Linked DNA regions of Homo sapiens. The protein of the gene in region 1 purifies or fractionates together with the protein of each later gene. This does not show direct contact. Each region holds a gene or a part of one and is shown in the gene's direction. Other genes may lie near its edges. The genes, in order: CHID1 and PTPN23.

The links.
Region 2: the proteins of CHID1 (region 1) and PTPN23 fractionate together in Homo sapiens (co-fractionation; one large-scale study listed by BioGRID). This does not show direct contact.

The regions. Positions count from the first base shown.
Region 1 is NC_000011.10:879,723-883,535, reverse strand, and holds part of CHID1 (chitinase domain-containing protein 1 isoform a precursor), read left to right. Parts: intron 1-232; coding exon 233-388; intron 389-1,020; coding exon of another isoform or gene 1,021-1,039; exon of another isoform or gene 1,040-2,662; intron 2,663-3,813.
Region 2 is NC_000003.12:47,390,986-47,394,798, forward strand, and holds part of PTPN23 (tyrosine-protein phosphatase non-receptor type 23), read left to right. Parts: intron 1-3,813. UniProt on the Homo sapiens protein: Plays a role in sorting of endocytic ubiquitinated cargos into multivesicular bodies (MVBs) via its interaction with the ESCRT-I complex (endosomal sorting complex required for transport I), and possibly also other ESCRT complexes.

The DNA.
Region 1 (3,813 bases):
GCCACTCTGCTGACAGCCCTTTCTGATGGGTGATCCTGGCCCTGGACGTGACGTCCCTCATGGGCCCGCTCTGCTGACAGCCCTTTCTGATGGGTGACTTCTGTTCTTTACAACTCTCTAGAGGTGTCAGCCGCAGCATGGGGAGGATGCACCCCTCAGTGGAGGGCCCCAATGATGGCTCAGGTGCGGGGCCCTCCCTGTTGCTGAAACTCGCTCACCCCTTGCCCTGCAGGCCTGGCCCTAATGCACCCCTGTCCTGGGTTCGAGCCTGCGTCCAGGTCCTGGACCCGAAGTCCAAGTGGCGAAGCAAAATCCTCCTGGGGCTCAACTTCTATGGTATGGACTACGCGACCTCCAAGGATGCCCGTGAGCCTGTTGTCGGGGCCAGGTGAGCCAAGGGCTCTCCCTGCCGTGCTGAAGGTGTCACTGGGCGCGGGTGGGTGTGGGTGTAAGGAGACAGAGTGATGGGGAGGGTCTCGGTCCCCTGGGGCTTCTGCCCCACAGAGTCAGAGATAGGGGCTGGGCCAGGAGCCGGTCCTGCTTGGTGCCCACCCCACCGCAGCCCCCACTGTGGTCACCACCCATAACACGGCCACACATCTGCGTGAGGCTGTCCCCACATCTGCGTGAGGCTGGGACTGAGGCTTCCCCCACCCGTCAGCCTTGCCCCACAGCATACAGGCCGGGCCGGGGCCTCCTGGGTTGAATGCTCCTCCTCCTCTCCTCTGCCCGGGAGTAATTTCCTGCTTTGTGTGTTCTTGGTATGCTCTGCGAGTGTGGTTTCTTGTTGGCATTACTTTACTTTATTTCTGGAGGACATCTTTCCTGGCTGTAGAATTCTGGCTGTCGGTTTTTTCACTGGCACCTTAAGCATGTGGCCGCCCTCTCATTCGGACAGCGTTTCACCGCCACCTCTTTCTCCTGCCTGTGTTGCTGTCCTCCCTGCTCGTAGGAATATCTTGTATTTATGGCTGGTTTTGAACAATTTTATTGACGTGTCTTCATTTTCCTTTTGCACAGTGTTCATGGAGCCTCTTGAGTCTGCATTCGTACTCTTAGCAAACTTGGAAAATTTGAGGCCAAATTCTTCAAATATTTTTTCTGTTTCTTCTCTTCTGTCTTCTCGTTTGGAGACCACAAACACTAGATCCATTGAATTTGTCCCACAGCTCACGAATACACCTTTTACCTTTTGGAATTCTTTTTTTGTTGAGACGGAGTCTCGCTCTGTCGCCCAGGCTGGAGTGCAGTGGCGCAATCTTGGCTCACTGCAAGCTCTGCCTCCCGGGTTCACGCCATTCTCCTGCCTCAGCCTCCCAAGTAGCTGGGACTACAGGCGTCTGCCACCGCGCCCTGCTAATTTTTGTATCTTTAGTAGAGATGGGATTTCACCGCATTAGCCAGGATGGTCTCGATCTCCTGACCTCATGATCCGCCCACCTTGGCCTCCCAAAGTGCTGGGATTACAGGGGTGAGCCACCACACCGGGCTGGGATTCTTTTTTCTCTGTTTTCTTTTTTTTTTTTTTTTTTGAGACAGGGTCTCACCCTGTCGTCCAGGCTGCAGTGCACTGGTGTGATCATAGCTCACTGCAGCCTCAACCTCCTGGGCTGAAGCCATCCTCCCACCTCAGCCTCGCAAATAGCTGGGACCACAGGTGCATGCCACCATGCCCCGCTAATTTTTGTATTTTTTTTGTAGAGACAGGGTTTTGCCATGTTGTCGAGGCTGGTCTCAAATTCCTAGGCTCAAGCGATCCTCCTGCCTCAGCCTCCCAAAGTGCTGGGATGACAGGTGTGAGCCCCGTGCCTGGCCTGGTCATTTCTCTTGCTGTGCCCAACCTGCCATTAATCCCATCCATCCTGAGCCCGACGTGGTCATTTCTCTCACCACCCAACCTACCGCCCGACGTGGTCCTTTCCCTCACCACCCAACCTACCGCCCGACGTGGTCCTTTCCCTCACCACCCAACCTACCGCCCGACGTGGTCCTTTCCCTCACCACCCAGCCTACCGCCCGACGTGGTCCTTTCCCTCACCACCCAGCCTACCGCCCGACGTCCTTTCCCTCACCACCCAGCCTACCGCCCGACGTGGTCCTTTCCCTCACCACCCAGCCTACCGCCCGACGTGGTCCTTTCCCTCACCACCCAGCCTACCGCCCGACGTGGTCCTTTCCCTCACCACCCAGCCTACCGTTAATCTCATCCAGTGCTTTTGTCACCTCGTGTTGTAATTCAATTTTTTTTATTTTTTATGAGATGGGGGTCTCACTATGTGGTCCAGGCTGGTCTTGAACTCCTGGGCTCAAGCGATCCTCCTGCCTCAGCCTCCCAAAGTGCTGCGATGACACGCGTGAGCCACCAAGCCCAGCCAACATGTTATAATTCTCTAGAGGCTTGCTTGGGGTCCCCTTTACGTCTTCCATGTCTCTACTAAACTTTTGCAGATTGGGATTCAGTTGTAAGAACTGCTGAGTGCCCATGTCTGCTGGTTCTGATATCAGGGTCGGTTTCAGGAGGCTGCTTTTCCTCCTTGTTTGGGGTCCTATTATGCTGCCTTCCTGTGGGCCTGGTACTCTCGGGTTGATGCCTGAGGCATTGCGAATTTTACCATGTTGCGTGCTGGGTGTTTTAGCATTTTTATAAATCATCTTAATCTTTGTTCTGGATGCAGTTGAGTTTCTTAGAAACAGTTTTAGCTGCTCACTTTTCTGGAGAACCTGGTCCTTTTTGTGGAGGCCTCGGCTGTCGTCTTTACGAGTTTTTGCAGGTCCCCCACAGGCCTGCCCTCCGTGAGGGGTGTGTGCGTGTGTCAGCCCAGGCAGGTGAGCCGAGGCCAGGCCATCACCCCTGATTCCTCCTGGTCGGCCGTGGGGAGGGGCAGAGGTAACCTGCTGGATTTGCGGGTCCTGAGGGTGGCAGCAGTGGGTAGAGGAGTATGTTGGGGCAGTGTTCCCTGCCCGGCCTCCAGGGGTGCCCTCCGTGAGCCCCTCCATGGCAGATGGCAGGTGGGCCATGTTGCAAGACCAGGGTCGTGTGTGGTGGTCCCCTTAGGGAGGCTTTCCCCCGACACTCTACGTGCACACTCCTCTCTGTCCACACGGCTGGTCCTGGGGTCCAGCACAGGCCTGGGCTCCCGCTGTTCTCTGGCTTCTGGCCCTGGGTGCGCTCTGGGTCACTGAGCAGGGCCTGACCCTGCTGCGGGGGCGGACACGAGGGGGTGCTGGCTGAGGTGGGCCTGGGGTCAGCCTGGGCATCAGGCGGGGCGAAGAGCCTGGCGTCTTCTCTCCCACGTCTCACCCAGTGAGTCATAGAGAACTCAGCCACACACTGAGACACGCGGGGCTCCGCACAGGCGAGGGCGATGCCCCAGGGCCCCTGGCTCGTTTGGGTCCCCTGTTCCTGCTGAGATGGGGCACAGGTCAGTCACTGGGTGCCAGCTCTCATGTCCCTGCAATGCAGAGTGAGGGGCCCGGCCGCCCTGTCTGCCCAACTGTCTGTTCTTTCAGTTGGGGCTGCTCTGTGCTCCTGTGTGTGCTGCACCCTCCCCCACCATGGCCCTCCTTTGATGCTGGGAATCCTGGGAAGGCTCTGGAAGCACAGCTCATGTCCCCCACCTTACCACATCCCTGACATGGTGCCTGGTTCTGGGACCTTTGGGTGGAGCCATGTACAGAGCTTGGGCTCCCAGCCCAGGATCCCCTGTGCAAAGCAAGAGGCCTCCCCATGCACCCAGCCCTGCCTCAGCTCCAGCTGTGGGCTCTGCTCACCCAGGCCTTCAGGGAAGCCTCAATTCTGGTTGGGCTTTTGAA
Region 2 (3,813 bases), on another chromosome or scaffold:
TGTAATCCCAACACTTTGGGAGTCTGAGGCAGAAGGATTGCTTGAGGCTAGAAGTTCCAGACCAGCCTGGGCAATATAGCAAGACACTACCTCTACAGAAAATTAGCTGAGTATGGTGGTATGTGCCTGTAGTTCCGGCTTCTTGGAAGGCTGAGGCAGGAGAATTACTTGGACCCAGGAGTTTGAGACTGCAGTGAGCTATGGTTGCAGTACCACTGTAACTCCAGCCTGGGCAACAGAACAAGACCTTGTCTCGAAAATAAAATAAAACAATAAAAAATAAACTAAAAACAATTTAAATAGAAATGGAATGGTCTAATATGGAAAGAACATGGGCTCTGGAGCCCAAATGCCTGGGTTTCAGTCATATCCCCATCAGTTATTAGCACCGTGACCTTGGTGAATACCCTAACTCTTTGCCTCAGTTTCCTCATTTCCTCATCTGTAAAGTGGTGATGATAATAGTGTCTACCTCTTAGGGTTGTTCTAAGGATGGAGTGATTACTAGGCACTCAGCACAGTGCCTGACCTGTGGTAGGTTCTCAGTTAAGCATCTGCTGCTGATCTTATAGGAGGACGGAGATGAGATTCAGATAGAATGTGACCTCTAGGCATGATTTGCTAGGGGTGGGAGCAGCATCTTTCTGTCACCATTGTGTGAACAGCAGGGTCAGATGTTCCTAGTGATATCACGGGAAGCCTTGTTTCTAGGATGTAGGAGTCTCCTGTCCATCTGATTCCTTTGGCCTCTATCCCACGAGACCTCTGAGCTACACTTTTACTCATTTTCTCTAACCTAAGGGTGGGCAAAACCTCTTACTGCAAGGGAGTTAACCACAGAACATTCTCTCATATAGTCAAGTTTTACCTCATAGCTTAGGCCACATTTTAAAAAATATTTTAGTTAATTAATTATTTTTGAGATAGTGTCACACTCTCACCCAGGCTGGAGTGCAGTGGCACAATCATGGTTCACTGCAACCTTGAACTCCTGGTGTCAAGCAGTCCTCTCACCTCAACCTCCCAACTGGCCAAGAGTATAGGCGCACACCACCACACGTGGCTAATTCTTGTGCTTTTTGTAGAAATGGGGTTTTGCCATGTTGCCCAGGCTTGTCTTGAACTCCTGGGCTCAAACGATCGGCCCACCTTGGCCTCCCAAACTGCTGGGATTACAGGCATGAGCCACTGTGCCTGGCCTATTTTTATTTTTTAATACAGACAGGGTCTCACTCTGACACCCCAGCTGAAGTAAGGTGGTGCCATCATAGCTCACTGCAGCTTCAAACTCCTGAGCTTAAGCAGTCCTGCCTCAGCCTCCCAACTAGCTGAGACCACAGGCATGCACCACCACTCCTGGCTAATTTTTAAATTTTTTTTCGTAGAGATGGGGGTCTCGCCATATTGCCCAGGCTGGTCTGGAACTCCTAGCCTCAAGTGATCCTCTCACCCCAGCCTACCAAAGTGCTGGGATTATAGTCATGAGCCATCATGCCCAACCCAAGGCCACTTTTTGTAGTTGTGTTTTTGTTGTTGTTGTTGTCATAATTATTTTTGAGGGAGGGAGTGGAGAGGGGGTGGAGTTGGATAGATCAGAGTGAAGATTGTTAAATGCCTGTCAGCTCCCTAAAGTTCTTGGTAAATCCTTATGTTTGTGCATAGTTGAAAATTTCTAGGGGGATTTAATTCATGGCTTTTATCATATTCTCAAAGGACCCACAAAAGGCTAAATAAAAACCACTGATAGGGGAAAGTGGTATTCAGGTACCATTTAGCTCTTCAGCAACTCTTAAGACATTTGTTTTCCAAATTTCAAACATATAGAAAAATTGGAAGAATAATTCAGTGCTCACCCAAATTCTCACTATCTAGTATTTTTGTTTTGTTTTGTTTTTAGAGATGGGATTTACTCTTTGTTGCCCAGGCTGGACTTGAACTGCTAGGCTCAAGTGATCCTCCTGCCTCAGCCTCTGGAGTAGCTGAGACTACAGATGTGCGCTGCACCTGGCTGATTCATTTTTAAATTTTTGTAGAGATGGGATTTATTGTTATGTTGCCCAGTCTGGCCTTGAACTCTTGGGGTCAAGTGATCCTCTGGCCTCGGCCTCCCAAAGTGCTGGAAGTACAGGTGTGAACCACTGCACCCAGTGTGTTACCTAGTTTTGTTTGTTTGTTTTGTTTTTTTAAGATGGAGTCTTGCTGTGTGGCCAAGGCTGGAGTGCAGTGTTGTAATCTCAGCTCACTGCAACCTCCCCCTCCTGAGTTCAAGCGATTCTCCTGTCTCAGCCTCCTGAGAAGTTGGGATTACAGGTGCCCACCACCATGCCTGGCTAATTTTTGTGTTTTTAGTAGAGATGGGGTTTCACCATGTTGGTCAGGCTGGTCTCGAACTCCTGACCTCAAGTGATCCACCTGCCTTGGCCTCCCAAAGTGTTGGGATTACAGGCATAAGCCACTGTGCCCGGCTACCTAGTTTTGATGGATGTATTTCACCTTATTTGTTTTCTCTCCAGATAGATAGATAGATAGAGAGAGATCCCACAAGCCCTTTGAAAGTAAGTTTTGGACATCACTTTTCCCGGACACATCTCAGCATGTGTTTCCTAAGAGTGAGGACATTCTACACAATCACAATGTTATTATCATACCTAAGAAAATCTACAATAATTTTCCCCTATCTTTTATGACTTTTCCTTTTTTTTGCAGACTCAGATCCAGCTGGGGTTCTCATATTGCATTTAGTTGTGTTCTGTCCCTTTAATCACTTATTTATTTGTTTATTTATTATTATTATTATTATTTTTGGAAACAGACTGGAGTGTGCACACAGCTCACCACAGCCTCAACCTCCCAGGCTGATTCTCCCACCTCTCCCTCTTGAGTAGCTGGGACTACAGGCGTGGGCTACCATACCCAGCTAATTTTTTTTTTTTTTTTTAATTTGTAGAGATAGGGTCTCATGTTGCCCAGGCTGCTCTGGAACTCCTGGGCTCAACAGTCCTCTGACCTCAGCCACCCAAAGTGCTGGGATTACAGACTTGAGCCACCATATCCAACCTGTTTAATCATTTTTAATCTAGAATAGTCCACTGCTCAACCCCCTCCTTTTACATGACATTAATTTTTTGAAGAGAGTGGGTTCATTGTTGCCCCATTTTCTGAATTTTTCTGAGTGTTTCCTTTTCGTGTTCATCTGTCCTCTGCATTTCCTGTAAAAGCAATCATTTGCTGAGTATACAACACATCTGATAAGGCCCCTACCATTCCTTAATGCTTATTGTTTGAGGCTGGGGTCACTGGCATGACCCTGCCGTCGGCACACAGTATGTTGGAGGCATGTTTGGAATGTGAGCGGAAGAGCAGCTAATGTTCAAGGCAGTGACATTTCGGCTGAGTCTTAGTAGAGAAAGTAGGGACAATGTAGATAGGCATTGATACCTGAGAGCAGCAATTCCCAAGTACTATTGGCTGGTTGTCCCTGGGAGGTGCCAGAGGAAAATCCTTGAAGGTTGTGGGGAGCAGGTTGTTTATTTTTGTAGAGACGGGTCTTGCTCTTTTGCCCAGGCTGATCTCTAATTCCTGACCTGAAGTGATCCTCCCACCTTGGCCACCCAAAGTGTTGGGATTACACGCTTGAGCCACCTCACCCGGCCAGGAACAGGTTGTGCAGGGTCATAAACTCTGTGCCAAAATTAGATTTGGTCCTAGAGGCTTTGGGAAGCTACTGCACACATTCTTTTTAGATTATATATCATTTCCTATCATCTCACTGTCCTGAGATAAGCATGTTTTGGTCTATCTTCTCCCTAAGGG